Homo sapiens: one gene and its partners. The protein of the gene in region 1 purifies or fractionates together with the protein of each later gene. This does not show direct contact. Each region holds a gene or a part of one and is shown on either strand. Other genes may lie near its edges. The genes, in order: IGF2BP3, PTCD1, MTERF3 and LRRC59.

Region 1 (7,027 bases):
ATAAATTATGTGCACTGCTTCTGTACTTTAGAACTGTTAGTTGACTGGTAGCATTACTGAACCTTGAACCTTGAATTGGCCTTTTTAGGAGCCCAGTCACTGTGAACTCTTGAGCAAATGTGTCCTTTATCCCTGCAAGGACTATTTGAAAAGAGACCCAGGAAGGGCACAACTGGCTTGAAGTGGGAAGTAGTGAAGGAATGAGGTACATAGATAAAATCTATTTATGAATGACCTTTCAGGAGTTAGCCTACAAAATATTTTCTAATTTTTTCATGTATAAAATGCAAAGGGGGCTGGGCGCAGTGGCTCACGCCTGTAATCCCAGCACTTTGGGAGGCCAAGGCGGGTGGATCATTTGAGGTCAGGAGTTCAAGACCAGCCTGGCCAACATGGTGAAACCCTATCTCTACAAAAAAAAAAAAAAATTAGCCGGGTGTGGTGACAAGTGCCTGTAATCTCAGCTCCTTGGGAAGCTGAGGCAGGAGAGTAGCTTGAATCCGGGAGGTGGAGGTTGCAGTGAGCCGAGATCGTGCCATTGCACTCTAGTCTGGGCAACAAGAGTGAGATTCCATCTCAAAAAAAAAGCAAAGGGAAGGCACAGATGGAAGGAATAAGGAATTCTGTGGGAAAGCATCTTAGGGCATCTTACCACTAAAGTGAATTAGCTCTCTCCTAATCCTGTCCTGTGCTTGGATGTGATAACTATTGAATGACAGTGGTAAGGTTTCATACAATTTAGTCATATGTAACAAAATTCAGCTTTTCTCTTAAACACTTCACTGTGTATGTGTTTAAGGAGTGAAACCTACATAGATAAGGTGTGGAGCTGGCGTCCTTGAGTTCTGTTGTGTTTGATATGTAGCCCAGAATTTCATTTACTTGTTAAGAATCTACCTTGAGAGTGGTAGGGGGCTCTTACTTAATTTTTAATGCAAGCATGTCCCGCTATTCTAATATGATTAAACTTTACAACATCTACATATCTTTTAAATCCATAACTCAGTGACATTTTAAAGTTTAAGGCAACAGTAGAGAAAAGTGAAATTTTAAATACCACTGTTTTCAGGATGACTGTATGAGATCTTCTTGACCTATTAGGTAAGGTCTGGTCAACTTCTTATGGTAGCTTTTCCTTAAACTTTCCTGGTATTCCTACTGCATGAGAAGGTGTCCTTCCTAAAGCTAATGTTAACAAAAGCCTGATTTGTAGCAAATAAACATGGGTGTCCTGGCTTTCTTTTCTAACAGCAATCAGAAACGGAGACTGTTCATCTGTTTATCCCAGCTCTATCAGTCGGTGCCATCATCGGCAAGCAGGGCCAGCACATCAAGCAGCTTTCTCGCTTTGCTGGAGCTTCAATTAAGGTACTGTTCTACCAGCTGTGGTTCTCTGGTTCTTTAAGTAAGTTACAGAAATATGAATCTTCTTGCCACTTTATAATTTGAATAGAATGTAAAAGACACTGTTAGGGTTACATAAGGATATGAAGAAACCCCCAAACAACAGTGGCTTACACCAAGGAGGCTAACTTCTCTGTGCAGAAAACACAGTTAGGAGGTGAACATCCGGGCTGGGTGTTGGCTCTGCCCCCACCAAGTCCTTGGACCTAAGTTCCTTCCAAGCCACCTTCCCCAGGTACGGCCTTGGTCCCTCTTGGTTCCAGATTGACACCATTCAGTGCTCCAGGAATCAGGTCTGTTGCCCAGCCAGTAGGAGAGGAGAACATAATAAAGAGCTTTTCTTCTAGGGAGGTTTCTTGTTAGCTACTGTGGGATATTTCTACCTATATTTCCATTGCCCAGAACTTGGCCAGACGAAGTTGAAGGGGCAAAATACAGGCTATGCACAGTCAGCTAAACATTTTGTAACTACAGAAGGTAACATACCAGAGGACAAATAATGGTGTCTGCCGTAATAGATAACTGTGTGTTCTGAAGATTCTGTATTTTGATGCCTTATTTAAGGAAAATAAAGGTTGGCCAGGTGCGGTGGCTCACACCTGTAATCCCAGCACTTTGGGAGGCCAAAGCAGGCAAATTGCTTGACCCCAGGAGCTGAAGACCAGACTGTGCAACATGGTGAGACCCCATCTCTACAAAAAAAAAAGTGTAATTAGCCAGGCATGGTGGCACACACCTGTAGTCCCAGCTGCTTGGGAGGCTGAGGTGGGAGGAACACTTGAGCTTGGGTGGTTGAGGCTGCAGTGAGCTATGATCACACCACTGCACTCCAGCCTAGGCCACACAGTAAGACCCTGCCTCAGACAAACAAAGGCATGTGGTGTGCAGTATCCTTGAAACTTAGGGTACAGAGATTCCTAGAGTGTGTTGCATACACAGGAAGCCCAAGGAGCCCTGATGCAAGTGGGCCAAGGACCATACTTTGAGCACCACTGGTGTAGTGAACACAGGCAATGGAGACAGACCCAGCTCTCCCTCTAGCTCTGTTAGCTGTGTGATCATGGTCCAGATAACTCAATTTCTCCAGCCTTCCATTTCCGCATTTGTGAAGTGGAGGTAATACTACTTCATCAGGACGTGGTGAGGATTAGCTGAGAGACAGCACGTGGAGGTCTCCATTAGGGCCCGGCACAGAATAAGCATATAGTATATGCAGGAGGGAGGCCTAAATTGTGAACCCACAGGAATTGCTGCCTCTCCCTAATTTCCTTCACGAAGGCTTTAATTCTGCATTTCAGCCAGTCACATGCAAATGTTAGGCTGGTTGGCCCAAGATGCCTATCAGTGATACCTGAAAGTATCATAACTTGTTGTTGGGTCTGTTACAGATTGCTCCAGCGGAAGCACCAGATGCTAAAGTGAGGATGGTGATTATCACTGGACCACCAGAGGCTCAGTTCAAGGTATGTGCTCTAGAGTATGTGCTATGTCCACAGGTAACAAATGCACAGGTAGTCCATAACCTGGCGTCTCCCTTAAATATGTCTAAATCTCAGAAAGAGTCAATGGAAATTCTTATCTAAGAGCTGAGTAGAATCACACTCAAAATTATATTTCGAAATTAACCAAAAGTCTTTAATTTTAAGAGTTCTGTACTGGTTGCTGGATTTACCTGTCTCTCAAAGGTTAATTTTGCTTAATGGTTTGTAATCCTATGCTAAGGTGAGACCTTAAAATTTACAAACCTGCCAGGTTAATATGCCTTGGAAACTTGTTTTCAGATGTTTTCCCTCCTGTCCCTGAGATTGCCTAGACTTGAATTAAAATGCCCCCTTTTTCCTTACCCTTGGATTATCTCTGTTAGACCCTGCCCATAGACTCTACAAATCTCTCTAATCCCTGGGATCTTAGAGATAGGAATGGCAGGAGCTCTTGTAGCATTTGTTCTGGTATGAACCATTGCACGTTTAGTGGGATTTGAGGTCTTTGGGGCTGCAGTGTGCCTTTCAATGTCTACTGAGAGATGGTAGAGCTGAGACTTGGCAGCCAGGCTGCTAGTTCAAATCCTAGCTCTGCCATTTGCCTTGTATGACATTGGGCAAGTTACTTAACCTTTTTCTGTAAAACCAGGGATAAGAGCACCTACATCCTAAGGTAGTTTAAGGTTTACACAATATATGAAATGTTTAGAAAAGTGCCTAACACATGGGCAGCACAAAATTAGCGTGCTGGGGGTATTCAACAGACTATGGATGAATCAGACTAAGACCATGCCAAATTCATAAATATATTCCTTTTAGTGTATGATTTCTCCCACAAAATTTAGTATGGGTGTCTTGTCTTAGAACATTTAGTGGCTGTGTAAGAAGACAACTATTTAACCTTAAGCTGTAGTTTTTTTTTTCTCTTTTTTTTTTTTTTTTTTTTGAGACAGAGTCTCACTCTGTCGCCCAGGCTGGACTGCAGTGGCGTGATCTCAGCTCACTGCAAACTCCACCTCCTGGGTTCAAGCGATTCTCCTGCCTCCGCCTCCCGAGTAGCTGGGATTACAGGCATGTGCCGCCACGCCCAGCCAATTTATTTTTAGTAGAGATGGGGTTTCACCATGTTGGCCACACACTCAAACTCCTGACCTCAAGTGATCCGCCCACCTTAGCCTCCCAAAGTGCTGGGATTACAGGCATCAGCCACTGTGCTCCTGGCCAAGCCTTAGTTTTTTTAGCCTTAAAGTGTAACAGTAACTAGTAACAGTGCATACAGTTCTCTCCCCACCCCACCTCTCTCCCTTAAATCAAACAAAAAAAATCACTTTCTTTGACTTCTATTTTCTCTGGGCCATTTTTTCACTAAAAACCCAAAGCTGCTTTCACTTATGTGAAGAATGGGAAACGAAGGAGGTGCTTTGAGATGTGGGTGGTTAGGTGAAGAAAGAAAATCATGTGAAGAAATTTATTCCTTCACAGCAGCCTTGTGATCCAGGCAGTTCAAATCTTAACTCAGAATTGTTGAAAACTGCTTCCTATCCCAAACTCTCAGGGTCACTTTTAGTTTGAAATCTTAAAAGATAAATACAAACATGTCTTTCCTTGGTGCTGAGCTTTTAGTCTTATAAGTAGAATTACTGTCCTGCAACTCCTATGATGTTTGTATGATAGGAACTTCAAAGTTCTTTCCCTGTATTCACTAATAAAACTCATGTTTTATAGTTAACTTAAATGTAACACTTAAGCCATAGTAGTTAAATTTTATTTATGTGATTGGTGACAATGCTAAATGAATGTTTTACTTTAGAGATCTAAGGAATGGTAAACCACCTACCCCGTATTTTTCCTTACAAATTCAAGAGCTTCAGTTTTGGAGGATAGTGTATATCCCTAGTGTCTTTTTGACTGTCTTAAGTAATAGTAATATCTACGTCATTGGCCTGAGGCATTAAGGATCATTGGAATATAGGGTATCAAGATGAATTTTGTTTTGTCGGTAGTGCCCTAAAATGAGCTCAGCTTTCTGAATCAGTGAACGCGTGTTGGGTACTATTGTTTTTTGTGGTTTACCCTGGCAGCTTGTCAAACCAACTCTCAGGCTCCTTTCTGCTTTGCTGTATGTAATAGGTTGTTTATATATAATAGGTTGTTTATATAGTTGCATGCAGTAGGTGATAGGATGTATTGACTCTAAATATCAGAAGTGTCTTGGCCAGGCGCGGTGGCCCACGCTTGCTATCCCAGCACTTTGAGAGGCCTAGGTGGGTAGATCACTTGAGTCCAGGAGTTCCAGACCAGCCTGGCCTACATGGCAAAACTCCATCTCTACTAAAAATACAAAAATTAGCCAGGCATGGTGGTGGATGCCTGTAATCCCAGCTACTTAGGAGGCTGAGGCAGGAGAGTCACTTGAACCCAGGAGACAGAGGTTGCAGTGTGCTGAGATCGCACCACAGAGAAAGAGACTCTGTCTCTAAAAAAAATAAAATAAAAAAATAAAAAAAAATAAAAGGCAGGGCACAGTGAGTGGCTCATGCCCATAATCCCAACACTTTGGGAAGCCAAGGTGGGTGGATCACCTGAGGTCAGGAGTTCAAGACCAGCCTGGCCAACATGGTGAATCCCCGTCTCAACTAAAATAACAACAAAAAATTAGCTGGGTGTGGTGGCGGGCACCTGTAATCCCAGCTAGTTTGGGAGGCTGAGGCAGGAGAATGGCTTGAACCCGGGGGTCGGAGGTTGCAGTAAGCCGAAACCATGCCATTGCACTTCAGCCTGCATGACAGGGTGAGACTCTGTCTCAAAAAAGAAAAAAGTGTCTTACCTTGATGTTGTAGCCTCTTTAAAATATTCAAAGGAAAAACCACCTTTCTAAGAGTATGAAACACATTTAAATTGAAAACATTTTTCTCAGCAGGTTTCTAACTGGCCCATGTAGATGTGAGCTTGACTTTTAGTGAGCTTGGCATAGCTGACTCTGCAGTTCTGTCTCTTTTGCTCAAAAAAAATGTGACCAGGTGTGGTGGCTTGCACTGGTAATACCAACACTTTGGGAGGCCAAGGCAGGACTCTTGAGCCCAGGAGTTTGTGATGAGCGTGGCAACATAGCAAGACCCCCATCTCTATAAAAATTAGTGGCGCAGTGGCTCACACCTGTAATTCTAGCACTTTTGGAAGGCTGAGGTGGGCACATCACTTGAAGTCAGGAGTTCGAGACCAGCCTGACCAACATGGTGAAACCCCATGCCTACTAAAAATGCAAAAATAATTAGCCAGGTGTGGTGGCTAGTGCCTGTAGTCCCAGCTACTCAGGAGGCTGAGGCAGGAGAATCACTTGAACCTGGGAGGCGGGGGTTGCAGTGACCCAAGATCGTGCCACTGCACTCCAGCCTGGGCAACAAAGTAAGACTCCGTCTCAAAAAAAAAAAAAAAATAAGTCAGGTGTGGTGTTGCATGCCTGTAGTCTGCTACTCAGGAGGCTGAGGTAGGAGGATCGCTTGAGCCCAGGAGGTTGAAGCTGCAGTGAGCTATGATTGTACCATTGCACTCCAGCCTGGACAACAGGAGGACCCTGACTCCAACAAAAAGGAAAGAAAAATGCAACTGATGTCTCATGGCCAGCATGAGAAGTTTTACCTATCACAATTTTAGTACGAATGGCCATTTGCCCACAAAAATTCGTTTTTATTAGGTTATTAATTGCCTTTAACTGTTTTCATCAGAAGAATATGGTTTATCCTTCTTTCACCAAGCATTCAGTTGCCTCTACTGTGATGGGCAGTAGTTATTGTCAACCTTTTAGGACTTCTAACTGCTCTCTTCTATGTTATTTTCAACAATCTATGAAATGTAGATGTATCACTGCAAAGGGCTATCCCACTTGGATTTGGGCCATCTTTCAAGTTAACTGACCTTTTCCATTTCATACATGAATGACACTAATAGGATGTGTTTTCATCTGCAGGCTCAGGGAAGAATTTATGGAAAAATTAAAGAAGAAAACTTTGTTAGTCCTAAAGAAGAGGTGAAACTTGAAGCTCATATCAGAGTGCCATCCTTTGCTGCTGGCAGAGTTATTGGAAAAGGAGGCAAAACGGCAAGTACTTCAGCAAAACCTGTGCAGTGGTATGAAAGGGAAA
Region 2 (7,027 bases), about 76 Mb from region 1:
CTGGGGACTTGTTCAACCCTCCCACACCCCCATTAGCACTTCTGCAGGTGCAACCCAGGAGTCATTCATTCATTCATTCATTCATTTATTTTGAGATGGAGTCTCACTCTTGCCCAGGCTGGAGTGAGCGATCTTGGCTCACTGCAACCTCCGCCTCCCAGGTTCACGCGATACTCCTGCCTCAGCCTCCCGAGTAGTTGAGATTACAGGCGCCCGCCACCACGCCCAGCTAATTTTGTATTTTTAGTAGAGACGGGGTTTCACCATGTTGACCAGGCTGGTCTTGAACTCCTGGCCTCATGTGATCTGCCCGCCTGGGCCTCCCAAAGTGCTGGGATTACAGGTGTGAACCACAGCTCCCCGCTGGAGAGCTTTTTTTTTCTTTTTCTTTTTAATGTTTTTAATTTTTTTTTTTTTTTTTTGAGATGGAGTCTTGCTCTGTCGCCCAGGCTGGAGTACAGTGGCATGATCTCGGCTCACTGCAAGCTCCACCTCCTGGGTTCACACCATTCTCCCGTCTCAGCCTCCTGAGTAGCTGGGACTATAGGCGCCCACCACCATGCCCAGCTAATTTTGTTTTTGTATTTTTAGTAGAGACAGAGTTTCACCATGTTAGCCTGGATGGTCTCGCTCTCCTACCTCGTGATCCGGCGCCTTGCTCTCCCAAAATGCTAGTATTACAGGCGTGAGCCACCGCGCCCGGCCAATTTTTTTTTTTTTTTTATTGATCATTCTTGGGTGTTTCTTGCAGAGGGAGATTTGGCAGGGTCATAGGACAATAGTGGAGGGAAGGTCAGCAGATAAACAAGTGAACAAAGGTCTCTGGTTTTCCTAGGCAGACGACCCTGCGGCCTTCTGCAGTGTTTGTGCCCCTGGGTACTTGAGATTAGGGAGTGGTGATGACTCTTAAGGAGCATGCTGCCTTCAAGCATCTGTTTAACAAAGCACATCTTGCACCACCCTTAATCCATTTAACCCTGAGTGGACACAGCACATGTTTCAGAGAGCACAGGGTTGGGGGTAAGGTCACAGATCAACAGGATCCCAAGGCAGAAGAATTTTTCTTAGTACAGAACAAAATGAAAAGTCTCCCATGTCTACTTCTTTCTACACAGACACGGCAACCATCCGATTTCTCAATCTTTTCCCCACCTTTCCCCCCTTTCTATTCCACAAAACCGCCACTGTCATCATGGCCCGTTCTCAATGAGCCGCTGGGCACACCTCCCAGACGGGGTGGTGGCCGGGCAGAGGGGCTCCTCACTTCCCAGCAGGGGCGGCCGGGCAGAGGCGCCGCTCACCTCCCGGACGGGGCGGCTGGCTGGGCGGGGGGCTGACCCCCCCCACCTCCCTCCCGGACGGGGCGGCTGGCCTGGCAGAGGGGCTCCTCACTTCCCAGTAGGGGCGGCCGGGCAGAGGCGCCCCTCACCTCCCGGACGGGGCGGCTGGCCGGGCGGGGGGCTGACCCCCCACCTCCCTCCCGGACGGGGCGGCTGGCCGGGCGGGGGGCTGACCCCCCCACCTCCCTCCTGGACGGGGTGCTAGCCGGGCAGAGGGGCTCCTCACTTCCCAGTAGGGGCAGCCGGGCAGAGGTGCCCCTCACCTCCCGGACGGGGCGGCTGGCCGGGCAGGGGGCTGACCACCCCCACCTCCCTCCCGGACGGGGCGGCTGGCCGGGTGGGGGGCTGACCCCCACCTCCCTCCCGGACGGGGCGGCTGGCCTGGCGGGGGCTGACCCCCACCTCCCTCCCGGACGGGGTGGCTGCCGGGCGGAGACGCTCCTCACTTCCCAGACAGGGTGACTCCCGGGCGGAGGGGCTCCTCACTTCTCAGACGGGGCGGCTGCCAGGCGGAGGGGCTCCTCACTTCTCAGATGGGGCGGTTGCCAGGCAGAGGGTCTCCTCATTTCTCAGACGGGGCGGCCGGGCAGAGACGCTCCTCACCTCCCAGACGGGGTCGCGGCCGGGCAGAGGCGCTCCTCACATCCCAGACGGGGCGGCGGGGCAGAGGCGCTCCCCACATCTCAGACGATGGGCGGCCGGGCAGAGATGCTCCTCACTTCCTAGATGGGATGGCGGCCGGGAAGAGGCGCTCCTCACTTCCTAGATGGGATGGCGGCTGGGCAGAGACGCTCCTCACTTTCCAGACTGGGCAGCCAGGCAGAGGGGCTCCTCACATCCCAGACGATGGGCGGCCAGGCAGAGACGCTCCTCACTTCCCAGACGGGGTGGCGGCCGTCTTGGCACTTTGGGAGGCCAAGGCAGGCGGCTGGGAGGTGGAGGTTGTAGCGAGCCGAGATCACGCCACTGCACTCCAGCCTGGGCACCATTGAGCACTGAGTGAACGAGACTCCGTCTGCAATCCCGGCACCTCGGGAGGCCGAGGTTGGTGGATCACTCGCGGTTAGGAGCTGGAGACCAGCCTGGCCAACACAGCGAAACCCCGTCTCCACCAAAATAATACAAAAACCAGTCAGGCGTGGTGGCGCGCGCCTGCAATCGCAGGTACTCGGCAGGCTGAGGCAGGAGAATCAGGCAGGGAGGTTGCAGTGAGCCGAGATGGCAGCAGTTACAGTCCAGCTTCAGCTGGGCATCAGAGGGAGACTGTGGAAAGAGGGAGAGGGAGACCGTGGGGAGAGGGAGAGGGAGACCGTGGGGAGAGGGAGAGGGAGAGGGAGAGGGAGACCATGGGGAGAGGGAGGGGGAGAGGGAGAGGGAGAGGGAGAGGCCCGGCCAATTTTTTAAATGTTTTACAGTTGTTTTGAGACACTCTCGCTCTGTCACCCAGGCTGGAGTGCTGTGGCATGATCACGGCTCACTGCAACCTCGATCTCTGGGTTCAAGTGATTCTCCCACTTCAGCCTCCTGAGTAGCTGGGACTGTGGGCATGCAATACCACACCCAATAATTTTTGTATTTTTAGTAGAGATGGGGTTTCACCATGTTGGTCGGGCTGGTCTCGAACTCCTGATCTCAAGGAGTCTGCCTGCCTTAGCTTCCTAAAGTGTTGGGATTACAGGCGTGAGCCACCGCGCCTGGCGTATTTTTTTGAGGCAGGGTCTTGCTATGTTGCCCGGTCTTGTCTCGAACTCCTGATCTCAAGGGATCCTCCCATCTAAAACTCCCAAGGTGCTGGGATTCCAGGCGTGAGCCCTGCGCCCAGCTGCTGAATGGGAGCACCCAGCTGACGTTTGTCTCTTCCGTGGCAGGTGTGGCGGCTGATGCTGAGTCTAGGGCTACAGCCGAGCCGGGACAGCTACAACCTGCTGTTGGTGGCAGCTCGGGACTGTGGCCTAGGGGACCCCCAGGTGGCCTCAGAGCTGCTTCTGAAGCCCAGGGAGGAGGCGACTGTGCTTCAGCCCCCAGTGAGCAGGCAGCGGCCAAGGAGGACAGCCCAGGCCAAGGCAGGCAACCTCATGTCAGCCATGCTGCATGTGGAGGCCCTGGAGAGGCAGCTGTTTCTGGAACCTTCTCAGGCACTTGGGCCTCCAGAGCCTCCGGAAGCCAGAGTGCCCGGCAAGGCCCAACCAGAGGTGGATACTAAGGCAGAGCCCAGCCACACAGCAGCCCTCACCGCAGTGGCCCTGAAGCCACCTCCCGTGGAGCTGGAAGTCAACCTCCTGACCCCCGGGGCCGTTCCCCCTACAGTGGTCTCCTTTGGAACGGTGACCACCCCAGCTGACCGGCTGGCCTTGATAGGGGGCCTGGAGGGCTTCCTGAGCAAGATGGCAGAGCACAGGCAGCAGCCCGACATCAGGACCCTCACGCTACTGGCCGAGGTGGTGGAGTCCGGGAGTCCTGCAGAGTCCTTGCTGCTGGCCCTCCTGGATGAGCACCAGGTAGAGGCCGACCTGACATTCTTTAACACGCTGGTGAGAAAGAAGAGCAAGCTGGGAGACCTGGAGGGGGCCAAGGCGCTGTTGCCGGTCCTGGCAAAGAGGGGCCTCGTCCCCAACCTGCAGACATTCTGCAACCTGGCCATCGGGTGCCACAGGCCGAAGGACGGTCTACAGCTTCTCACAGACATGAAGGTGAGTGGACTCGGGCCTGGGCAGGACACCCATGGTGCTCAGGAGCACTCTGCAGCTCAGGAGGAAAGTTTGAGGGGTCTGCAGACCCCCCACCTGGAGAGGATGAACTGTGCATGGGGCAAAGAGAGTGGGGTCAATGACCTTCTGGTCTTTGGTCCCATTTTGGGGGAAGCAGACCCCAGTGAGTGCTTCAGGGCTGGGCGTAGAGACACACGGATGTTCCCATCCGGAAGAAGGTGGCCGTGGGTTGACACAGGGCTGGGCACAGGCCTCGGCCCCAACACTCTAGAGGTATGGCAGGGATTCTCAGAATTCCTGAGGGGCCGTGGGCAGTTTTCAAAGCCCCCGAGGTCTGTGCCTCCCACCTAACCCCCATTGGAAGTGCTGCGTGGATTTCATCCGACCACAGCAGAGGCTGCGTCCTGGGTTGTCGGTGTCCCCAGGTCCATCATCCTCTGGCTGTTTTCCTGGACCCTACCGGGCTCACCCAGCCAAGGCTTGCACTTTTCTAGGCCAACCACCACCTGGTGACCGTGCGTCACAGGAAGCCCACCCCAGGGAGCAAGGAGGTGGTGTCTCCCACATCATTTTCTGCCTGAGTCAGTCGGTGTCTGAGAGCAGCACGAGCGTCCTTTTCCGCAGCTTCTTTAGGGCTGAGCAGAGGGGCTGGGCTTGGCTTTCCTGCTGGAGAGGGATATTCAGCACATTGTTGCTGCCAAGTTTGCCTTGCTGGCCCTGGCCGCTGGTCCCGGGAGCCAGCTTGATTGACAGAGGGTGGGAGCTGCTGGGTCCCAATGGCTGCCATCATCTTGATTCTACGATGTCCCTGTGTTCTAGAAGTCCCAGGTGACCCCCAACACTCACATCTACAGTGCCCTCATCAACGCGGCCATCAGGAAGCTGAACTACACCTATCTCATCAGCATCTTGAAGGACATGAAGCAGAACAGGGTCCCGGTGAACGAAGTGGTCATCCGCCAGCTGGAGTTTGCAGCCCAGTACCCTCCCACCTTTGACCGGGTGTGTGCCCCAAGCTCAAAAGCTCATCAGCTCCTTCACCATTGCTACCCCCTCCCCCCACCACCCAACCCCGGTTCTGGCCCTTGGGATTGTGTTGCCATGCTTGAAACTGTCCAGCAGCTTCCCTTAGGAGCAGTACCCAAGTCTGTAGACCACAGCCTGCGAGTCCCTGTCTGCGTGGCTCATCTCATGTCTCAGCCTTGCGTTTGCTTTCTCTGTCTGTCCCAGTGGCCTTCTGTCAGTTCGCAGAGGCCACCAACCTCTTGCCTGCTTCGGGATTGGTGTTCCCGCTGCCTCAGGTGGCACCCACTTTTCCTGGAGGTCTCTGCTTAAGTGGCCCTCAGACATGCCCAGCTGGCTGCCGCTCTGACCTGGGATGAAAGTCTCCCCTCCCCCTTCCCACTCTGTTCCTTTATGCCGTGTCCTACAGTCTTGGATCATGTGCTCATGGGCAGCCCTGGCCTTCCCTGTATCAGGCTTCTGGAGGCAGAGGCTGTCTGCTGTGCTCATCTGGGTCCCCAGCACCTGCACGTTGCTGGGTACTCCAAACAGGTTGTCGCTTGCTCAGGGACTGGGCAGGCAGTGAAGTGGTGTCATTGTCTGGGGTGAATACCTGAGATTTGTTGTGAGCCAAGATCGCGCCACTGCACTCCAGCCTGGGCGATAGATGGAGACTTGGTCTCAAAAAAAAAAAAAAGAGGTTAAGAGCTGAAGTTTAATAGGCGAAAGAAAGAAGAGCTCTCGCCCGGTGTGGTGGTGAAAAAAAAAAAAAGAGAAGAGCTCTCTCCTTGCAGAGAGAGGTGCCAGAGAAGTGGGTTGCCACTTCCATAGTGTAATGCAGAGGTTTTGTAGATGAGCTTGGGGAGGTGGTGTCTGATTTACAGAGGACGCAAAAGATTAGTTGGACCAGGTGTGCCATTTACATAGCATGTATAAAAGCTGGTGCCCCACCCTAACCTTTTATTATGCAGACAGGTGGCCATCGCCATGTTGCCTGGTTCTTTACTGTACACATGGCAACAAAGAAGGGAAGATGGGGCCCCCACGTTGAACATATCTGGCTCCCAGGTAGCCCTTTTCTGTTGGCACAGCCGCCAGCATTTACCCCTGCAAGCTTCCAGTTTGCTTATCTATGTCTGCAGCTCGATTTTTCAGGCTGCTCTTTGTTAGAAAAGAAATTATTTGGGGGCTGCTTTTTATTAAAAGGGAAATTTCGCCAAGGACTCTGTTGCCCTTATTATCTGCCTAAATAATTTCTTTCAACCTCCTGTATCAGCAGGAGCAGGGCAGAGTCATGGAATCTGCTTTGTCACGGCCACAGCCTCTCCCTGCTGTTCTGAGGCTATCAGGCTCTGGGGTTTGGCTTTTGGGTCCATCGAATCACACTCTGTGCTGAGCATCTCCGGAGCATCGAGAGCCACTATGGCTTGAAGCACAGCCCGGATGGGGCGGAAACAAGTAAATGGGCAGGGACACACACAGCTAGAGGGTGCGGGGTCAGGAACGCCGTGCAGGTGTCACGCCTGAATGCCATTTTGAGGGCTTCCTACAAATAGGTGGGACAGCAATGGAAATTGTGTCTGGCTGAAGGCATAGCTGGGCATTTTTGAACTGTGTCTGTGCTTTGAACTGTTGGTTGCAAGCCTTTTCTCATTGATTCCAGGGTTTTTTATATATTCTGGGTACTGGTTTTTTGTTGATCACATGTTGTGCATATCTTCCTAGTGGATTGTCTCTTCCCTCTGGCGTAGGGCTCACTAGGGGTTCAACTCGACAGTCACAAGACTATCATAGACCTAAAGCATATCATATTTAAGTCACAGACAGATGTCCCTGACTTAAAGATGATTCTACACAGGATTTTTCAACTTTGCAATGGTTTTATCAGGATGTAACTCTGTAAGGATCGACTTTGTGCGGGGTTAGTTTCTACTGAATGTATATCACTTTTGCATAATTATAAAGTCAGGACCCTCT
Region 3 (7,847 bases), on another chromosome or scaffold:
CAAAGCCAATAAGGGAAATTAAGTAAAAACCATTATTAACAAATCAATCAGTCAATCAATCAGTCTGTCCATTTCCCTGTCCTTGCCTGTCTCCTTAGTTCTAAATCGAGGAGAAATGAAGCATAGACAAATTGATGATCACTTAAGTACACAAATCCGCAGAAAGGCAACGTCTTCTAGGTAAGTAACAATTTTTGTTGGACAAGTGCTAACAAAGGCTGATTCTACTGTTTAATGGCAGGTGCCTCTTAAGGAGAGGTGGGCTTCTTTGAATGTGAATTAATAGATTCTGGTGTTTTCTAAATCTAAAGCTTGAGTTTTTTAAACTAAAGGCATTCAATATTTCCAAGTTTACCAACCCCTGAATGCAGAGTAAATATGAGGGTATCTTATAGGTAATTATTATACTCTGAGCTTGAGACAAAAGTTTTCCTTGCCCTACTTTGCTAACAAACTTCTAAGACATATGCGTAAGCATTTATTTATAAAAATACTATTTATTTTTTAATAGAGATGGGGTCTTGCTATGTTAGCCAGGTTGGTCTTGGACTCTTGGCCTCAAGCAATCCTCCCACCTTGGCTTCCCAAAGTGCTAGGATTACCGGCGTAAGCCATTGCACCCAGCCTACTTATTCTAAAATGTGGGAAAATAAGTTTTTGGTTTTCTTTTGAGACAGGGTCTCATTCTGTCGAGTGAGTAGGGTGGAGGCTGGAGTATGGTGGCGTGATTCAGCTCACTGCAACCTCTGCCTCCTAGGCTCAGGTGATCGTCTTACTTCAGCCTCCAGGTGCATGCCACCACGCCCAGCTAATTTTTGTTTTGTTTTGTTTTGTTTTGTTTTGTTTTGTTTGTTTGTAGAGATAGGGTTACACCATGTTGTCCAGGCTGGAAATGAGCTTTTTCAAATAGGAAAATGATTAGGTAGTATCTAACTTTATTTTTAATGATGGTGATAAAGACAGGAGATATTTAAATACTATGGTTTAACAGGGAATTGACCTAAGGGCCATCTAACAAAAGAACTACTTGACAAATCCAAACTTGTCTCAGACTTCAGTGCAAGGTATCTAATCCTCTGTAATTTTAAATTCTTGCTGGATCTCTGAAGCATGTGACAGTACCCAAGTACTGTTTCTCACATACTGGTTATATGACATCCCAAAAGAATCCTATCTCCTCGTTCTCTTAGACAACTAGTCTTTGCAAAACAAACTTTAAGACATATCTTTTAAGTTTTACTGAAAGAATTGCACTGAACAATTGTCCAACTAAAATCTTATAAAATAAATAATAAGGCACTGGAGTTAATCATTACAAAAGAACATAGGATACATTTTCATTTAAGAAGTCGTTACTTTCCGTCTTTATGGAGGAATATAGAGCTATCATTGTAATGCCCCACTTAAGTCACAAATCATTACAAAAAATGAGTAAGATTTAGTAAGTACGAATTCTATTAATGGTGCTTATGATTTTATATAAAGTGAAACTTGTTATTAATTAGTTCTTCATTATGTGATTTCTGTCTCTTTATGAAATTAGTGGAAGAAATAAAATTGTTAACATTTTTGGATGAGACTACAGTCTGAAGTTCAGATTATGGTTCTTCTATTATTTTGGACAAGCTGTTAAAATTCGTATTCATTTCTTATACTTTCACTGCTGCAATTTATTGACTGCCTTGACAGAATATGATGTAAAAGGAAATTTCAGAAGATTGTGACTTTTTATATCAGAAAAGAGGAAGAGAAACCTATTTTGAAAGGACCTAGAATAATATTAAAAATGAAAGGCTGAAACAAATGGCTCATTCTTGCTTCTCATTATTTAAAACAAAATACCATAATTATTTTTCTAATTTCCAGAGAAACTCCCTCACTAATTTCATTATTTCAAGCCCACACCTAAGATGAAGTTAAACTGAAGTTAACATCAAACAGGTATGTATGTTATCTAATGTCCATTTTTCCAGTGCTTTTATCCTTCTCAATTACAGAGCATACTACATCCTCGTTCAATAATAAATATAAATTAGAAGACAGTAGCATTCAATGAAATCACATCGTAATAACCACTAATGTTTATTAAGCACTTAATACTTGCCATGCACTGAGCTAAACAGATTATCTAAAAAGATGAATTTAATCCTCATGACAAATAATCCCGACAGATTAATGTATTGATATTTTCATTTTACATACAGATAAGGAAACTGAGGCCTAGCAAAATTATGTGGCCACACAGCTATTAAGTGATAAAATCAGGCAACATAATGAAGTATTTGAAAGTAACCATAGTTAGGGACATGATTCATTTCTCTCCAAAGCTAGAAATATGTCTGGTCAGGTACTGTGGAAAGGTCTGGTCTTCACCTGCTGCACAGCTTTAGCAGATTTTATAGTAATAGTGGCAAGATCCCTCAATCATTAAAGAGTAAGCAATTGTTACTTAAGCTTTATACCTTTAGGTAGATTCTTTCAAATGGATAAACACTTACATAACAAGAACCAAGAGTCAAATGAATCCCAGAGGTAAGGAACAAGTGTGATGTGGGAGGATATTAGTTTTATGAGGATTTGAAAAACTGCAGTTATTCCTAAGGGAGGCACCACCGGCACTTGTGTGTGTGTATGCAAACGACTGTGTAGAAGACAATTCCCTTTATGTTGTACAGCGCTGTCACATATGTCACAATACATTTAGTATCCGTTAACTGCTCCCCCTCCCAAATACTAGAAGTTCTCTCAATCCTTGTGACTACCCAATATATATATCCCTACACATGTTCTGCTGACCCTGACAGAGAACCTTGATTGTTGGATAAAAATACTGGGAGAGAAGTAACTGACATGAATTGTACATTGTGCTCCAGGGACTCTGCTAAATGCATTCACACACATTCATTTAATTTTCATAACCCTATATAAGTAGATATTTCATCCCCATTTTACGAGTGTGGCCCCTGAGGCTCAGAGCAAGGTTATGCAACTTAATTAAGGACACACAGCCAGTTTTGAAACCAAAAGTGTGGCTCAAAAACTACTCTACTCTAAGTTGGCCTTTTAAGCCATAATGGTGAGAGAGGTGTGACTTCCCTTTCTTTAAAGAGGTTCATTCAGAAAGTATAAATCATTCTAAGTAGGAACCACGGTGTGTACCTCCTTATGAACCAAGGATGAATTAGTTCTCTAGGTTAGGAATGAGGAGCCACAGGCGCAGTGCCAGAGTTAACATGAGGTGTGTTCAAGATTTGGGCTGGGCAGCTCCTATGAACCGGTATATATTAGAATGTGTGTGTATGTTTTCCAGGGAATAAGAGAGTTGTGTTATGCTGTGTGAGGTTTATGTGTTTCATTTAACACACAGCAGTTACTATACCCCAGGCACCATTAAAATTGCTGGACAAGATCACATTTCAGCACGTATGTTAGGTAATGAGTGAGCAGGGTATGCACCGCGTGATGTGTGGCGGGCTGGTGTCTGTGCAGCCATGTACACAGATGATGGGTATTGGGCTGTGCTGGAAAGGAAAGGTCCGCTGTGAGGTGTGTGTTTAGAGTGGCAGTTTGTGCCGTGGTACAGATGGTAGTGTTTGAGGCTGGGGGAAGTGTTATGCTGGATGACTTGTGTGCAATGCATACGGGAAGTGCTGCACAGGAAAGACCGTGTATGCAGCACACATGTGCATTTTTTGTGCGTTACGGATAGTGCCGAATACCGGAGTTCCACAGGAAGGGATCTAGGTTGTGTCCTGGGCCTGTGTATGGTGCCTGCAGGCGCTGTGGATTGGGGTGCTTTGTATGTGTAGCGGTGTGTGCTGAAAGTGGTGCATACGACATGATTCATGCGGTGTGCTGGGTAGGGACGAAGGCTGGAGCAGTGCAGAGGAGGGGCCCGCGTCGTGATGTTGTGTGGAGCGATGCTGAGTGCGGTGGGTGAGGGGGCGATCGTGCTAGGTGACTCGCGTGCGTTCCCCGTGTAACCGGAGGCGCTGTATGGAGAAGGGGCACTGAGGGGTAGGGGAGCAGGCTAGCGTACTGTGAGACACCGGGCGGGCGGAGGGGCCGCGTGGGCGGCGGGCTGCCAGTGCGTGTGCGTGGAGCAGCCAGCCCACTTCCTCACCCAGAGCCATGCCGGGCCCCCCTCCCCGCCACCCTCCCTCCCGCCTCTTCCCTAGCCCTTGGACGCGCCCCCCGCTCGGCTGGGCCGCCCCACCTGGTAAAGGCGAAGTACATGAGGCTGACGATGGTGAAGCTGAGCAGGGTGATGGTATGCGGCCGGTAGAAGAAGTCAATGGTGATGTCCTCCACTTGCTGCTCGTTGATCATCCGGAAATGCATTTTGTAGTTCACATCATCCTTGCTTAGGGTCCGGCTCCCCACGCAGGACGCCATGGCCCGCCTCCCCGTCCTGCCGCGGTGGCGGCGGCCCCAGCCCGAGAAGGCCGGGACCCCGGGGGTGACTAGCCACAGTAGGCTAATAGCCGGACGGCAAAGCCGGGTCTGGCGCCCAGCAAAGGCTGGGAGCAGAGGGAAGGACAGGCGCGAGAGGGCGGGGTCGCGGCGCCGCCACCGCGGCCTGGGGCAGGGGACGCCGCCGGCCGTCCCCACGCTGTCATCCTAGCTGAGGCATCTCTACCACTCGAGGAATTTTCAGACTCCAAGTCCACAGGACTTCAGAGGAATAGCGAGCCGGAGAAGGGTAGCCGGGGCCCCTGGCTGGCTCTTTTCAGAGCACGTAGCCCGCTGTCTCCCCGCGTAACCCGGCACATGGTCTCGCCCACTCCGGGCGCGGCCCACGTGGGCCCGGGAGCGCGGCTGCGCTGTGTAGGGCGGGCTGAGGAGCCGGCGTGCGGCGCGGCGGGACGGGACGTGCGGCCCAGCGAGTTGGTCGGTCCCGGGGTCACCCGCTACGGGAAGCAGGCCTCGCCACAGGTAAAGCAGGAGCTGCCCCAGCACGAGGATCGCGCTCCTGGCGAGGGTTCAGGTTCCGGCGCACCCGCGTCCAGACCGCGCCCCAGGGCCTCAAGGGCCTTTAGGTTTTCGCGGCCCAGTAGAGGGTGATTGGTTTTGTTTTGTGTTTTTCCCTGGCTGATGTAGTGAAAACTCAACCATGCTGGCTAATTAGCGCAGTGTGAGAAGCCTCAGGAGGGGGCTCTGCCTTCCTGCGCAAGTTTGGGGAACTGAAGTGGGCTAAAATGGCCTGGGAAGTATTGAGAGACCCTTTATTAGGAAGCTGCCCCCATAACCTCCCTTTCTCTCCTGATTTCATTTATAGCATTTCGTAGGTAGAAATCTTGAACTCTATTTCAGTGCCTTTTTCTAGCGAAGCACTAGGCACTCATTGAGAACAGTATATATGAATTGTTAAGAGACTTCAGTTTCTTTAAGGGTTTTCTGTAATTTTCCTGATGAAAGGACCTTGTTAGAAGACTTCAGGTTACCACCTTACAGGGCTTTTATACACATCTGCACATCCCCTACCCGCTTTTGCATACTGTGTAAGCAAGTGAGTTAACTGTACTTGCCATTGATTTATTTCCATTCCGCAAACATTAGAGCAGTACAAGGCTCTGGGAAAGTGGAGAATAGTCCCCGGAAGGATGGATCCAGGGATGAGACCCAGCTCTGCTCTCGTGCATGAACAGTTAATCAATTGTTAAGATGTGTAGGCAGCAATGAAAGGATGTGGAGAAGATAGTGCACTTGTAAATAAAAATGCAAGGATAAACATTAGTTGTATGCACAAAGATCTTTTAATGACGGGGTGAAATTTGAAAGTGAGTCTTCCTGATGTTTAAGTGGTATTGAGTGTGGAAAGGCTTCAGGATGAATTTGGGATTTCAGGAGTTTGAAGTAGGATGAAGTGCTTAGACGTCAAAAAATGTTAGAGCTGATAGGGGCCTTAAGAATCATCTTATTGTACCCCTAGCCTTTTAAAAAAGCATTATTTGAAGAATAGTTATTGACCCCACCCCCACCCCCCACATCATGGGCTAGACTGCTGCTTTTGTTAGACTGCTGCCAGAAACAGCCTTGTCAAGGTAGCACAACCGAGGTCTTCTGACTTTCAATTTAGTGCCCTTATGACTACCGTGCAGAGAATGAATGTTGTAGGTTTGAGGGAAAACTTGGCACATTTGGAGTCCCATTTCCCACCAAAATCTAACAGAAACCACCTATCCCAGCAGGGTATTGTGAATACTTACTTCTTTTCTAAAATCATCGCAGAATGGGCCGAGCGCAGTGGCTCACGCCTGTAATCCCAGCACTTTGGGAAGCTGGGTGGATCACCTGAGGTAAGGAGTTCGAGGCCAGCCTGGCCAAGATGGTGAAACCCCGTCTCTACTAAAAACACAAAAAATTAGCCGGGCATAGTAGCGGGCGTGGGTAATCCCAGCTACTCGGGAGGCTGAGGCAGGAGAATCACTTGAACCTGGGAGGCAGAGGTTGCAGTGAGCCAAGATGGTGCCGTTGTACTCCAGCCTGGGCAACAAGGGCGAAACTCCGTCTCAAAAAAAATAATAATAATAATAATAATAAATAATTGCAGAATGAAAGGAAACTTTCACTTTTGTAAAATCTCTTTCAGCAAACTTCCCAAAACTACAGATCTCCAAGAAAAGATTAGACCCTCAAGTATTTGGTCTAATTTAGAGCATAAAACAAGCTGAATTCCAGTATGCAGAAAAACAAAGTATAAAGTTGTAGGCAGCAATTAATTCAGCAGAATTTTTGTATTTGGTTGTGTAACCAATAATAATGGCTAACATTTATTGAGCATTTCTTATATCCTGACTCCATCCTGTGTTTTATATGGATAATGTTATTTAACGTAAGATTATATGCATCAAATTTACCTTTCTAATTAGCTGGCTAAATATAAAATCCCTTCATATTCCTGGAGTTTAACATAGCACTAGCCTTTCCTGATAAAAATATTTTTGAAAACTACTTTTTCAGTCAAAATATACAGGTATTAATTGCTGGTTGCTTATTTATTTCTGTCACTTGGTTTTGTTACTAGTTTTGACCTTTTCTTTTTGAAGGCTTTTTTCTCCTTTCCTACAGTGAAACAAAACTTGACAAAACTGGTTTTGTTCAATTCCCTTTGGAAGAACAGCTTTATCTGTGAAGTAATCAACAGTGTTCAGCCCTGAGAATGAAGCAAGAAACTGCTTTCACTGTTCTGTATATCAATGATAATATTTTGATGATTTGTTTAGGACACAGTAGATTTCTGTTTTTTCATTTTGGGACAAATTTATATACATAAAATGCATTTGAATAATTCAGTGTTACTTTGATCAGCAATGTGCTGCGGAAACACCCTTCACACCAAATTTCAAGAACACTTATTTGCATCAGCTTATTCTCTTTAAATGATTAAATTAACAGATTAGTGAGGTCTGCTGTCACTTGAACATTTGCAGATTTTTGTTTTAAGCATTTTTCTTACACCAGTGTCATTGCATTTTGTTTTTAAATTGTAAAGTATATCTTTATTTTTCCACTCAGAAGTTCCTGTCTGTTGGTTTGTAACTGAGATTGCCTTGTTGTTGGCTTTTCCTGTACATAAGAAACATCTCACTATTTTAGACTAAATATATATTTAAACACCTTTCAATTAGAAAAAAATAATTTCCAGTTTATCTTTTTGTTGTTTGAATACCGTTTTAAACATTTAAGTAAATTAAATTTCTCTTCTTTTGACGGTTATATCTTTCCTTTGTAGACTAAGAAAAATGGCTTTGTCAGCCCAACAGATACCCAGATGGTTTAACTCAGTTAAGTTGAGGAGCCTCATTAATGCTGCACAACTCACAAAACGTTTTACTAGACCAGCA
Region 4 (7,867 bases), on another chromosome or scaffold:
AAAAATACAAAAAAAAAAAAAATAGCCAGGCGTGGTGGCGGGCACCTGTAGTCCCAGCTACTCGGGAGGCTGAGTCAGGAGAATGGCGTGAACCCAGGAGGCAGAGGTTGCAGTGAGCCGAGATCATGCCACTGCACTCCAGCCTGGGCAACAGAGTGCGACTCCGTCTTAAAAAAAAAAAATAGACCTAGGTAAATTCTCAGATAACCCTGATGGCTATATTGATGTTTTACAAGGGTTAAGACAATCCTTTGTTCTGACATGGAGAGATATAATGTTACCGCTAGATCGGACACTAACCACAAATGAGAGAAGTGCCGCCATAACTGCAGCCCGAGAGTTTGGCGATATCTGGTATCTCAGTCAGGTCAATGATAGGATGACAACAGAGGAAAGAGAACGATTTCCCACAGGCCAGCAGGCAGTTCCCAGTGTAGACCCTCATTGGGATGCAGAATCACAACATAGAGATTGGTGCCACAGACATTTACTAACTGGCGTGCTAGATAGAAGGACTAAGGAAACTAGGAAGAAGCCTATGAATTATTCAGTGATGTCCACCATAACACAGGGAAAGGAAGAAAATCCTACTGCCTTTCTGGAGAGACTAAGGGAGGCATTGAGGAAGCATACCTCTCTGTCACCTGATTCTATTGAAGGCCAACTAATCTTGATAAGTTTATCACTCAGTCAGCTGCAGACATTAAAAAAAAAACTTCGGAAGTCCACCTTAGGCCCGGAGCAAAATTTAGAAACCCTATTGAACTTGGCAACTTCGGTTTTTTTATAATAGAGATAAGGAGGAACAGGCAGAACAGGACAAATGAGATAAGAAAAAGGCCACCGCTTTAGTCATGGTCCTCAGGCAAGCGGACCTTGGAGGCTCTGGAACATGGAAAGGCTGAGCAAATCGAATGCCTAATAGGGCTTGCTTCCAGTGCGGCCTGCAAGGACACTTTAAAAAAGATTGTCCAAGGCCGGGCGCGGTGGCTCACGCCTGTAATCCCAGCACTTTGGGAGGCCGAGGCGGGCAGATCACGAGGTCAGGAGATCGAGACCATCCTGGCTAACACGGTGAAACTCCATCTCTACTAAAAATACAAAAAATTAGCTGGGCGCGGTGGTGGGTGCCTGTAGTCCCAGCTACTCAGGAGGCTGAGGCAAGAGAATGGCGTGAACCCAGGAGGCGGAGCTTGCAGTGGGCCGAGATCACGCCACTGCACTCCAGCCTAGGCAAAAGAGTGAGACTCTGTCTCAAAAAAAAAAAAAAAAAAAAAAAAGATTGTCCAAATAGAAATAAGCCACCCCTTGTCGATGCCCCTTATGTCAAGGGAATCACTGGAAGGCCCACTGCCCCATGGGACGAAGGTCCTCTGAGTCAGAAGCCACTGACCAGATGATCCAGCAGCAGGACTGAGGGTGCCTGAGGCAAGCGCCAGCCCATGCCATCACCCTCACAGAGCCCTGGGTATGCTTGACCATTGAGGGCCAGGAGGTTAACTGTCTCCTGGAAACTGGCGTGGCCTTCTCAGTCTTACTCTCCTGTCCCGGACAACTGTCCTCCAGATCTGTCACTATCCGAGGGGTCCTAGGACAGCCAGTCACTAGATACTTCTCCCAGCCACTAAGGTGTGACTGGGGAACTTACTCTTTTCACATGCTTTTCTAATTATGCCTGAAAGCCCCACTCCCTTGTTAGGGAGAGACATTCTAGCAAAAGCAGGGGCCATTATACACTAGAATTAGGAGAAGGGAAAAGGGTAAATATATATACAGACTCAAAGTATGCTTACCTAGTCCTCCGTGCCCATGCAGCAATATGGAGAGAAAGTGAATTCCTAACTTCCAAGGGAACACCTATCAAACATCAGGAAGCCATCAGGAGATTATTATTGGCTGTATAGACACCTAAAGAGGTGGCAGTCTTACACTACCGGGGTCATCAGAAAGGAAAGGAAAGGAAAGAAGAAATAGAAGGGAACCGCCAAGTGGATATTGAAGCCAAAAGAGCCGCAAGGCGGGACCCTCCATTAGAAATGCTTATAGAAGAACCCCTAGTATGGGGTAATCCCCTCCAGGAAACCAAGCCCCAGTACTCAGCAGGAGAAATAGAATGGGGAACCTGACGAGGACATAGTTTCCTCCCCTCAGGATGACTAGCCACTGGAGAAGGAAAAATACTTTTGCCTGCAGCTAACCAATGGAAATTGCTTAAAACCCTTCACCAAACCTTTCACTTAGGCATTGATAGCACCCATCAGATGGCCAAATTATTATTTACTAGACAGGCCTTTTCAAAACTATCAAGTAGATAGTCAGGGCCTGTGAAGTGTGCCAAAGAAATAATCCCCTACACTACAGGCCATACATTTCAATCCCTGTATCTTTAACCTCCTTGTTAAGTTTGTCTGTTCCAGAATCGAAGCTGTAAAACTACAAATGGTTCTTTAAATGGAGCCCCAGATGCGGTCCATGACTAAGATCTACCGTGGACCCCTGGACCAGTCTGCTAGCCCATGCTGTGATGTTGGTGACATCAAAAGCAACCCTCCCGAGGAAATCTCAACTGCACAACCCCTACTATGCCCCAATTTAGCAGGAAGCAGTTAGAGCGGTCATCGGCCAACCTCCCCAACAGCACTTGGGTTTTCCTGTTGAGGGGGGCACTGAGAGACAGGACTAGCTGGATTTCCTAAGCCAACTAAGAATCCCTAAGCCTAGCTGGGAAGGTGACCGCATCCACCTTTAAACATGGGGCTTGCAACTTAGCTCGCACCTGATCAATCAGGTAGTAAAGAGAGCTCACTGAAATGCTAATTAAGCAAAAACAGGAGGTAAAGAAATAGCCAATCATCTATCGCCTGAGAGCACAGGAGGAGGGACAATGATCGGGATATAAACCCAGGCATTCGAGCCGGCAACAGCAACCCCCTTTGGGTCCCCTGCCATTTTATGGGAGCTCTGTTTTCACTCTATTAAATCTTGCAACTGCACACTTTTCTGGTCCGTGTTTGTTACGGCTTGAGCTGAGCTTTTCCTTACCGTCCACTACTGCTGTTTGCTGCTGTCGCAGACCCGCTGCTGACTTCCACCCCTCTGGATCTGGCAGGGTGTCTGCTGGGCTCCCGATCCAGTGAGGCGCCCATTGCTGCTCTGGATCAGGCTAAAGGCTTGCCATTGTTCCTGCGTGGCTAAGTGCCTGGATTTGTCCTAATTGAGCTGAATAGAGCTATAACACTCATTGCATGGCCCAAGATTCCATTCCTTGGAATGCGTGAGGCCAAGAAACCCAGGTCAGAGAACAAGAGGCTTGCCGCCATCTTGGAAGTGGCCCGCCACCATCTTGGGAGTTCTAAGAACAAGGACCCCTGCCACCCACCCCCCGTAACAATTGCACTTACTTTATTTGGTGTTCATAGTTTCCCTCTGAGACAAGATTTTTTATTTTTTATTTTTTTAGAGATGGGGTCTTGCTATGTTGCCCAGACTGGTTTTGAACTCCTAGCCTCAAATAATCCTCTCATCTTGGCCTCCCAAGTATTGGGATTACAGGTGTGAGCTATCCTGCTCGGCCCCTCTGAGATAAGCTTTAATATCCCTATTTCAAAATGAGTAAACTGAGGTTTGGAGTGGGTAAAGTGCTTCCTTCCTTCATTCATTCATTCATTCATCCATCCATCTATTCATTTATTCAACAGACATCTGAATGAGTAGCTACCCTGCATCAGGGTATGCCAACTCTGGGCATACGAAGATGATTAAGACAAAAATCCCTGTCCTCACAGTCCAGAATGAAGGACAGACACATAAAGATGAGTATAATACAAGGTGGATCATGAATTGTAGCTAATATTTATTGGGTACTTACTAAGTGCCAGTGACTGCTGTAAGCTCTTGGTGTGTTTTACTCCTTCAGTTCTCCCCAACCTCTGTTAGCTACATGTCTCATAGATTGATTCATAGATAAGACTGAAGCCTGGTGATTGTCTACGGTTTTATAAGTAGCAAGTGGCAGAGCCAGGATGAATACCCAGTGGATAGGTATTAGTGCCAGAGGTCCCACTTGGCCATCAAGCTCTACTGTCTCTGATGATAAAGTAGCAAACAGGGACCTAAGTTGGTTGGGGGGGGCGCTAACTCAGTCTGGCATTCACGGTGTTCAGGGGAGATTTCCTGAAGGACTAAGGAATTAGCTAGACAGAGGTGAGTGGGGGGGAGGGAGGGCCATCGCTGGGGAGGGCCAGACGTGGGAGCCACCTCCTGGAAATCTACACAGCATCTAGGCCAGGCAGGGACTGGAGCGTGTGAGGAAGCTGCGAAAGCAGGCAGGACCCAGCTTCCAAAGGAAAGTGGTCCGTATCCTAGAGGTAGCTGCAAGTTTGAAGGGTTTTACGTAGGGGAGAGACTTGGCCAGATTTTTAGAAAGATCACCGGGGAGCTGGGTGAAAGTGGATGGAAGGACAGAGACAAGCACTGAGGCAGTGAGTGGGGAGGAGAGAGGAGAAATTCAGGAAGAAGAGTTTTCCCCATGATGGTTATTCGGGGGTTAAGTAGAGGACAGGGAGCAGTTTTAGAGGACACCCAGCTTCTGCTCCTAATCAGGGGGATTGGGGTGATCTGATGAGGTCAGTATTGGATGTCAACCCAGTCTTCTGGCGCCCAGTCCGTGCCCTTTCGCCTCGTGGCACTGCCAGCAATAATGCCCGCGGGCCACGGGTGAACGTGAACCGAGCTCGCAGCCTCCAACCCCACCCCTCCGGCGGCGGCGACGTGCAGTGCATCACCCTGGGCACCAGGGGGCGTGCCCGCACACGCTCGGGCCGCTCTGGCCCAGCCCATCTCAGTGGTCGCGGAAGGTGACGTGGACACGGAAGTGGTCGTCGTCGCGGCACCGGTGGGAGCTAGGCGCGAGGCTCGGAGTGCGGCCAGCGGGCGGAGGCGGTCTCGCATCGGCGGCGACGGAGGGCTCAGGCGTCGTCGTTTGGGTGGGGGGCCGCTGAACTGACAAGCGACATTTCAGCTCCTTTCACCCGCCGGAACCCCGGAGCCGGGGCCCGCTCAGCCGGCGTTACCATGACCAAGGCCGGTAGCAAGGGCGGGAACCTCCGCGACAAGCTGGACGGCAACGAACTGGACCTGAGCCTCAGCGACCTGAATGAGGTCCCGGTGAAGGAGCTGGTCAGTATCGTCCCGCGAGGCCCAGGCGCCCACCTTCGCCGGGCGCTGGCCCCTACGTGGGCCACTTACTTTCCTCTTCTCTAAAAGCATCAGTTTCCTTTTCTTTAAAAAGAAGCGGGGTGGTGGGACTAAGTCCCCTAGGAGGCCGCGTCCAGCCCAAGGTTCTTCCCGGGATGTACACGTGTCACTTTGGCGCAGTTCCAGAACATAGGGAAGATCTGCTTCTCTGGCCCTAGGCTTTTTACAGGCTAAGAAGCGAATCTGTCACCTTTGCGGGGCTTTCACAGCGCCCACCTCCGTGCCCGACTCTGAGTAGGAGCACACGGAGCAGTTACTGGATGTATTCGAGAATGAATGAGTGACTTGTTCCAGGGGAGTAGGCCTCCTGGTAGACCTGGGTGTGGCCCAGAACCTGGCTCTTCTAGGAAGCTGGCAATTCCAGCTGGCTGCCCGAGCCCTGAGGCAGCCTAACTCGAAGAAAGTAAAGTCTCCCCCCAGCTTGGCTGGTAAACTGTCATCTGAATTCCGCTGAAACTGGCGGGAGTCCCTTTCGCCCCTCTCTCCCCCAACCTTTCCCCTGTAAACTGAAGCTTACAGCTCCAGAGAGATAGCAGGCATCTAGTTTTGTCAGCGTGGAGCTAGTTCCCACATCCCTCCTTTTCCCACTCCGTTCCCCCTCCCACCCGCGCCAACGCCCTACTAGACTCACTTTGGGTGACCCACACTTTGCTTTCTGCCGTTGATAAATTACATTTGCCTTGGGCGCTGGGCCCAGTCTTTCTTCCACCGTGGACGGGTATTACAGTGGTTAGAACCGGGTTCCTAGCTCCTCCCAGCTCCATTGCTTAATAGCCGAGTGCCCTTGGCAAGCTAGTTAGCCTTTATGCCTAGATCTCCTCATCTATACAATGGTGATAATAGTTTCCATCTCATACGCTTATTGGGAGGTTAAATACCATTGTAATGGAAAATGCTTGGAAGGAGCAAATACTGATACTTGTAGCTGTTGTTGTGTTTTTCCCGCTGTAGTATTTAAAACTTTTTTAGGTGGTCAAACTTCACTTTTACGACTTTGTGACAGAAAGTGCAGGTTGCCAGAGGATCCTTAACTGAATATATGCCTCCTTTTCTACCCCAGGAAGATAGATGGCCAGCCTTATTTCACCCTGCCCTAGGACTGCTCTCTGAAACCATATACTCCAGGCATCTGAACAGTCCAGCATTAACCTTAGGGAGAAAGTTTTGCTGAGCTTGTCCAGCCTGGACACCATGGGAAAATAGAGATGGGCTGTGAGGGCCTTTTTTTTTTTTGGATGATGGAGTTTTGCTGTTGTTGCCCAGGAGTGATCTCGGCTCACTGAAACCTCTGCCTCCCGGGTTCAAGCGATTCTCCTGCCTCAGCCTCCCGAGTAGCTGGGATTACAAGCGTGTGCCACCATGCCTGGCTAATTTTCTATTTTTAGTAGAGACAGGGTTTCTCCGTGTTGGTCAGGCTGGTCTCGAACTCCTGACTTCAGGTGATTGCCTGCCTCAGCCTCCCAAAGTGGTGGGATTACAGGCGTGAGCCACCGCACCCGGCAGGGCCTTGTTTTTTCACTCTGTCATTCACTCCGCTACTTACTCGATCAGTCATGATTCAGGCAACATGTATGGATATTGAGTACCTGTTCTGAGGAAGGGCCTGAACTGGGGAATATGGAAATTGCAAAGCTTTATTAGACACTGTCCCTGCCCTGAAACCTAATAAGAGGGACGCTGGGTAATATTTATTTTTAAAGTGCTAGGAATAATGTCTAAGAATCTAAATTTTGCTTGCCTGCCTGCCTGCCTGCCTTCCTTTCTTTTTTTTTTTTTTTGAGATGGGGTCTCACTGTGTTGTGCAGGCCGGCCTCAAACTCCTGAACTCCTGGGCTCAAGCGATCCTCCTGTCTCAGCTTTCTGAGTAGCTGAGACTATGAGACTACAGGTGTGAGTCCCTGTGCCTCGCCTAAGGTTTACCTTCTTGGAGGTTGTACAGCCACATCCCTTCTCTTTGCATTCTTCCTTAGATCATGGTTGACTGGCTTATTTTTCCTCTTATTCCCAGGAACATTACTCTTTACTGCCATTTTAAAAGGCCTTTCCTAATCATGGGAACATTCTCTGGAAAATGCTTCATTAACATATGTCAGTGAATTGTTCCAGATGTTGGTCTGACATGTTTTTCTCATCCTCTTTTACCTAGGCTGCCCTTCCAAAGGCCACCATCCTGGATCTGTCTTGTAATAAACTGACTACTCTACCGGTAAGATTGGCATGCAGCCGTGACTCCTTCTGGTGCCTTGGATGCATCTCCTTCCTGTTTCGGGGGTTGAGAGGGGGGTGGGAGGGTGTCATAAGGTGTAATTTCAGGATAGGCCTACAGGCAGGCTATAGCTAAATCTGAGTGTGTAGGGGAGGCACAGTGGAATGGAGTGGTTGGTCTCAGTGGGAAAGGAATTGAGATGGAGGCCTCATTCTTCAGAACAGTGGTAAAGTCAGTCCACAGAAAACTAAACTCAACAGGGTGCTGAGTAACTTACTGGGCTCATCTTTTTTCTACATTATTTTATTCCTCTGAAAAATAGTTTACCTCCCTACTGCATAGAGGATGCTAGAGACCATTTTGTAAGTTGCTCTGCGTTCCAGGGAGAAAGCTGTGAACAGCTTC

The links.
Region 2: the proteins of IGF2BP3 (region 1) and PTCD1 purify together in Homo sapiens (co-immunoprecipitation; 2 studies listed by BioGRID and IntAct, with this or other methods). This does not show direct contact.
Region 3: the proteins of IGF2BP3 (region 1) and MTERF3 purify together in Homo sapiens (co-immunoprecipitation; 2 studies listed by BioGRID and IntAct, with this or other methods). This does not show direct contact.
Region 4: the proteins of IGF2BP3 (region 1) and LRRC59 purify together in Homo sapiens (affinity purification with mass spectrometry; 2 studies listed by BioGRID). This does not show direct contact.

The regions. Positions count from the first base shown.
Region 1 is NC_000007.14:23,313,479-23,320,505, reverse strand, and holds part of IGF2BP3 (insulin-like growth factor 2 mRNA-binding protein 3), read left to right. Parts: intron 1-1,251; coding exon 1,252-1,368; intron 1,369-2,792; coding exon 2,793-2,867; intron 2,868-6,852; coding exon 6,853-6,984; coding exon of another isoform or gene 6,985-7,027. UniProt on the Homo sapiens protein: RNA-binding factor that may recruit target transcripts to cytoplasmic protein-RNA complexes (mRNPs). This transcript 'caging' into mRNPs allows mRNA transport and transient storage.
Region 2 is NC_000007.14:99,421,798-99,428,824, reverse strand, and holds part of PTCD1 (pentatricopeptide repeat-containing protein 1, mitochondrial), read left to right. Parts: intron 1-3,208; coding exon 3,209-4,030; intron 4,031-4,867; coding exon 4,868-5,050; intron 5,051-7,027. Other genes in the region: ATP5MF-PTCD1 (ATP5J2-PTCD1 fusion protein), read left to right, coding at 3,209-4,030, 4,868-5,050. UniProt on the Homo sapiens protein: Mitochondrial protein implicated in negative regulation of leucine tRNA levels, as well as negative regulation of mitochondria-encoded proteins and COX activity. Also affects the 3'-processing of mitochondrial tRNAs.
Region 3 is NC_000008.11:96,258,589-96,266,435, reverse strand, and holds the start of MTERF3 (transcription termination factor 3, mitochondrial isoform 1 precursor), read left to right. Parts: upstream 1-4,825; 5' UTR 4,826-4,935; intron 4,936-7,735; 5' UTR 7,736-7,745; coding exon 7,746-7,847. Other genes in the region: PTDSS1 (phosphatidylserine synthase 1), read right to left, coding at 4,217-4,395.
Region 4 is NC_000017.11:50,394,524-50,402,390, reverse strand, and holds the start of LRRC59 (leucine-rich repeat-containing protein 59), read left to right. Parts: upstream 1-4,867; 5' UTR 4,868-5,073; coding exon 5,074-5,178; intron 5,179-5,887; exon of another isoform or gene 5,888-5,984; intron 5,985-7,398; exon of another isoform or gene 7,399-7,402; coding exon 7,403-7,462; exon of another isoform or gene 7,463-7,467; intron 7,468-7,867.